Linked DNA regions of Homo sapiens: region 1 is linked to region 2. Evidence: fine-mapped expression QTL. A gene starts in region 2. The other region holds a variant in brackets. All regions are shown on one strand. Distances are between the middles of the regions.

Region 1 (2,907 bases), 25 kb after region 2:
ACCCACAGTTTATGTTTTTGTGTTTAATCCCTGTAACCTGTTCCTTTTGTCCCTGTGTTGCTGGTGTGGTATTTCTGTTGCACAGAAAGGCCTCCCCGGCTGACATCAGGGTGGAGCAGGCCCTCAGTGCCTAGGCAGCATCAGTGACATGGATCGAGAAAGGATGTACCTGAAAAGCCGGTCAAAGGAGAACAAGAAGGGGGCATCCTGGGAGGCTGCTCCCAGGAAAAAGCCTGGTGGGAGGGCAGGGGCCTTGGACACGGGGACCCAGCTCCCCACCTCCCCACCTCAGAGAGGCCTGGGAAATCATTCCTGGCAGTAGCCTGGCCTTGCCCGTCGGACAGTATTAGGGAGGGTGAGGGAAAACACTTCGTGGTCAGGTCAGTTTGGAAAACTTCCTGTAAGGTGGTGTTTGTTTCAGAGCTTTGATGAGGCCGATGCACAGTGCGAATTTCCAGAAGCGGGTGAGCGCAGCCTTCTGCAAGCTTCATTATCCACGGTGTCTTTTTTTTTTTTCTTTTTTTGGAAAGCTGTTCATGCAAGAATGCTCTGTTTTGGGAAATGCAGTCTCACACCCTCCTCTCCCCTAATCCTGTTTCTAGGCTCGTCAAGCTTTCCAATTTGAGTCTTCAGCTATCCAGAAGCTGTGAAGGGGCAGCCCCGTCACCAGACACAATCCTTGCAAAGGGACAGCCTCCATCAGCCTCCATGGAAGACTGACAGACCCACACAGGGGAGAATAAATCAACCTGCAAATGAAGCATTCAGCCAGCTTGGGAGTTCTGCTTTCCATTTTAAATTAATACACCGGCCTTCTGGTTTGTACATCGGTTGTCCTCCCGTGGGTCTGGCTGGTAGGCATTGGTTTCTGAGGGGCTGGCTGTGTCTGGGGCAAGGTGGAGACCTCAATCCTGGGCTGCCGGGATGGGCCAAAGTGACCTTCGATGGAGCATCTCCCAACCCTAGAATTACAGGGATTTATGAAATGTGGACCTTTCCTGAATGTTAAATTTGCTGAGGGCCAAAGGGGTCAACCATCTCAGCAATGGGCAGGGGCCAGAGGTGCACGAGGGAGGAGAGAAGTGAGGAGAAGAAGAGCGATGGATCGGGGTACAGGCGATCAGGCACGGGCAGGCAGGACAGGGGCCTGATGCGGGAGGGCGGTGGTGGGGACGGTGTAGGGAACAGGAGGTGGGAGGAAGCAGGCTGCCATGCAAGCTCACCCCAGGAGAACCAACCGGGAGGAGGGGGTTCCCTGTCCGGGAGGGCTGAGAGATGGCCGAGGCTCTGCTGCAGCCCTGGTGGAGGCCATCCCTGGGAGAGCCTCCGTCTGAGCTCTGGCTCTTGGGGAGGAAGGGCCAGCTGCCAGTGAGGGCCCTGCTGGGCTTCTGGGTGGCGGCAGGAAAGCTCTGGGAACCCGGGACTCAGAGCCTCCTGGGCCTTATCTTCCTGTTTGGACGTTACTTTCAATGGCCACTGCTCTGGTCCTGCTGGCCCGTCCTGGGTGTGAAAGGAGAAAGAGGCTCCTTGTGGGCCTGTGGAGAAGGGTGAGACCCCTTTCTAGAGGACCTCCTCGGCCTCCACTTCTGCCAGGACATCCATGACGGCCGATTCCATTTCCCCTGCCTGGCGCACCTGAGCTCACGGCTGCCCATTCTTCTGCTAGT[A/G]GACGGAGCTGGGACAGGCCTGCCACTCCCTGCACCCCCCTAACCCCCACACGTCCTGGCCCTGTCCCTGGATGCCGTCAGGGCCTGTTCCCCACTCAGTTCTCAGAGCAACCCGGAATGAAACTGTATTTGAAACATCCCCTTACTTCCTTGTTCCTCTTGGCACCCGATCACCTCGGTCCCAGCCCCAAAACTCTCATTGTGCCAGCATCCTCTGGAATCAGAGACCCACCCATGCGGAATCAGAGACCCACCCATGCGGAATCAGAGACCCACCCAGGCAGACTCAGAGTCCGACAGTGTCAGAGCTGAACTGGGTAGTGACCAACTAGCTCAACCTCATTTCACAGACGAGGAAACTGAGTCGCAGGGTGGGGAGGAGCCAGCAAAGGCGGCACGGCAGTGAGACCATCCCCATTTGGGGACCTCCGTGACCTCCCCGAACTGAACAGCACCCATGACAGAGGGCTCCTCTATCCAAATCCAAAGGCCAAGTCCTCCAGTCTCCAAGTGGTCGACGACAGCAGGGGCCATGCTGCCCCATGACCTCTGTGTGTGCCAGGACCACCCAGCCTCCTTGGCTGCCCAGTGGCGAGTCCAGCTCAACCTCCTCCCGGGGCCCCAGCACCCCCGGCACATTTTCTGACTTTACATAGGTCATCGGGTAAATGGTGTCACCTGCATGAGCCTCAGTGTATCCATCTGGGAAAGGGGAAGAACCTCCCAGCAGGCTCTTCTCACAGTGGTATTGCAAAGCGAAAATGAGATTCGGATGCAGACACACGTGGGGAGGGAGCCTGTGAGGCCTCTGCTAAGGCGAAAACCCATAACACACACGACTGGCTCTGCTCAGGCCATCGGCTCTGGGGCCGCCTCGTCCCATGTGGGCTCTGGCTTTGCTGACACCGTTCCCTCATCTGGAGGCTCTTCCTCTGACCCTCAGTGGACCCACTTGACAGATGGTCTGATGTGCCTTCTTCCTTTAAGGAAGACATGGTGTCCTTCTGGTTTTGGAATCAGACCGAGCTGGGTTCAAATCCTGTCTGCTGAATGGTTTTGGTCGCAATGGCTTCTGCTTTCTTAGAAAAAGTCCCAGATTCAGCCGGGTGAGGTGGCTCACACCTGTAATCCCAGCACTTTGGGAGGTCGAGGCAGGTGGATCATGAGGTCAGGAGTTCAAGACCAGCCTGGCCAACATGGCGAAACCCTGTCTCTACTAAAAACACAAAAAATTAGCTGG
Region 2 (2,907 bases):
GTTTCTTACTGCTTTCCAGGAAATTACTGGATCAATCAAGGAAACTAGCTCTTTGAGCTTCACATATGATCATGTGAACTTTAGGAAAAGAGGTAAATCATAAGAAAGTAAGCTTAATGACTCGGGTTTATTGAAAACAAAACAGAGGCCATTCAGGGTGAGTCTGGGCCACGTGTGTGTCTGGCTGTAGGCTGGCCTTCGTGGGTAGGCCCCGAGGCTCAGAAGTTCTGAGGCCTGGGAGCTTTGCATATGCCGTTTGCAAAGGCAGGAATTCTATTATTTTAACTGTGATTTAAAATACCTAGTCAAATATATCACAAAAGGGAACAAGTTTTTTTTTTTTTTTTTTTTTTTGAGACGGCATCTTGCTCTGTTGCCCAGGCTAGAGTGCAGTGGTGCAATCTCGGCTCACTGCAACCTCTGCCTCCTGGGTTCAAGTGATTCTCCTGCCTCCGCCACCTGAGTAGCTGGGACCACAGGCGCACACCACCACACCCGACTAATTTTTGGATTTTTAATTTTTGGATTTTTAGTAGAGATGGGGTTTCACCATACTGGTCAGCCTGGTCTTGAACTCCTGACCTCATGATCCGCCCGCCTCGGCCTCCCAAAGTGCTGGGATTACAGGCGTGAGCCACCGCATCCAGCCAGAACAAGTTCATATTAAGTGAGTGTTGAGCATTGCTGTTAGACCTGGATTTCATTCCTAGCTCTGTTTCGTCTTAGAAATGTTATTTCACCTTTCTGAGTCTGTAAACTGATGGAGTAATTCCTGCCTTATAGAAGGGTTGTGAGGACTGACTGAGGTTGTGAAGGTGAAACATTTTGCTTAGAGTATGGGCCACAGTCAGTTCCCACCAAACAGTAGTTATTATAAATGTTATTTCCCCGTGTTCCTGCCTGTTTCTATTAATCAATAGCTCACATTATACACTGACCACACTCTGCGCATAGAATTGTGTTTTACTTTTCTCATTTTCCTTCTGTTTCAGAAAGTTTATTCTTTTGCTCACAATTATCCTATTTATAGATCATAGGTGTTTTTACTTCATTTTAAAAAACACATCAATTTTTTGTAAGCAATCCAGATGTGTGTATGCTTTACAAGCATTTAAAAATCTGTTTCAGAGCCAACACATCCAGAAAGATTTTTGCAGGGGGCAGAGGATGTCAAAGCAGCTCGAGGTTTCTCAGGGGAGCAGGGAACCCAGTGTACTTTTCCTGCCAGACACACAGTTCCCTAAACCCTGGGTTTCCTGCTATGTTTTTCTTGCTTCTAATCGGCCTGCCAGCTTTTCCAGCATCTCCTGGGTTTACTGAAAAGATCTTAAGTTGGGAAGTTGAAACGCTGACCCAGGTGTGTTTGCCAACAGGCAGAATCAACAACAGGCAGAATCAACAACAGGGAGAATCAACAACGGAGAATCAACAACAGGGAGAATCGACAACAGGGAGAATCAACAACAGGCAGAATCAACAACAGGCAGAATCAACAACAGGGAGAATCAACTCAGTGGGGAGGTGTCGGGTGCTTTTTGTGTGTGGAGCCCTGATGAGGAAACACAAGCCAAGTAGAAACAGTCCGTGCCCCAGATGGGTCCACAGCCTTTGGGGGACTGTGACAGCATCACGGCAGGACGGGTGCTCTGTAATCGTTACGCACCAGGTGTCTTGGGAGCAGAGGAGGTGGCTCCCCACAAGGTCACGTTGTGCTGATGTGATGGGTGAGAACGGTGAACGCCAGGTAGGGACGAAAGCGCTGCAGGTGGAGGGCCCTGCAGCCGAGGCGGCGGGCACGAGCCGGCTTGTCCCAGGCACTGAAGTTGGCAAGGCCAGAGCGCATCCTTTTGTTGTTTTGGGGGTGGGTTAGAGGCGGCTCTCGTGATCCTGGCGCGTGAGGCAGGCCTGGATCATGAGGCTGCTGGTGTGGAATGCTGAGTTCTTTTGACTTTGTAGACAAAGGAAGACATCAGGAATAGCCAGAGGGGTAGTGGGGTTGCATCTGGGTGCTCAGGATGGGGCTGCTTGAAAGCGGCTGGCGGCTCCACTGCAGCCACAAAAGGAGGAAAGGCCTAGTGCGTCTCTCCCTGCGGACAAAAGGTTTCCTTAATTGGAAGCAAGTTCATTTGTACAGAAACTGCATTTGGAGGTTGGAGGAACCTCCAACTGCTGGAGTCTTTGTCGAGAGCAAGGGTTCTTGAAGGCCAGTCCAGGGCCGCTGCCGGTCTAGAGTTAAGTTTTCAGCCACCTGAGGTGAAATGATAAGAACTGCAGGACCGAGCTTTTCTTAAAATGAAAGAGATTCCGTTTCAAGGACGGTCTTTATTTGGATGTGTCTTCCTGAGTTCTTGGTACTGAAATGGCTGTTGTTGCGTAGTGGTGGTGGTGGTGTTAGGCGGTAACTGTGTCCCCCGTGCCCTGTCAGGATGCCCCTCACCAATGACTGCTATTTTAATGATCCCCGAAGTCCATCTTGAGGACCCGGGGCCAGAGAGCTTTCGTGTTAGGCAGCACCACCTGTTGGCAAAATGTGGCATTGCAGGCCCTCTGGCTAAATTTCAGAGTGGGAGGGATGAGATTGTGTATTCATTGCCCAATAAATCAATTAATTCCAAATCTGCTGGCTCAAGCCCATGGGTGCTTAAAGGGAGTCAGCCCAGGGAAGCTGGGAGGGGAAGGAACTGGGTCGCCCGCCATCTGGAGCCAAACGGGGACCAGCCAGTATCTAAGGTCAGGAAAGGAGACGGGTGGAGGGCTCTGAAAAACACCACGCCTGCACCTGGGCCAGAAACCTGCGGCTCTGGGCTAGCTGGAGGGAAGCTGAGGGCTGGGAGAGCGGGCAGTCACTCTCCAGCAGAAGTCCTCGCATCACGTCACTCCATTTGGGAAGCCTCAGTTCCACTGTAT

What was found.
Region 1: its variant is fine-mapped to the expression of LINC01983 in esophagus mucosa (GTEx, PIP above 0.99). The same link has a PIP of 0.9 or more in nasal epithelium.

The regions. Positions count from the first base shown.
Region 1 is chr3:195,834,311-195,837,217 of GRCh38, reverse strand. LINC01983 (long intergenic non-protein coding RNA 1983) reads left to right here. Exons shown (of 2, transcript NR_134939.1): 2 at 603-763. Among named protein-coding and RNA genes, the nearest start is that of MUC4, 24 kb to the right of the region's middle. The variant A/G (reference allele first, on the strand shown) is at 1,668.
Region 2 is chr3:195,859,110-195,862,016 of GRCh38, reverse strand. It overlaps LINC01983 (long intergenic non-protein coding RNA 1983), which reads left to right and starts at 1,613. Exons shown (of 2, transcript NR_134939.1): 1 at 1,613-1,744. RefSeq lists enhancers at 1,179-1,701, 1,702-2,226.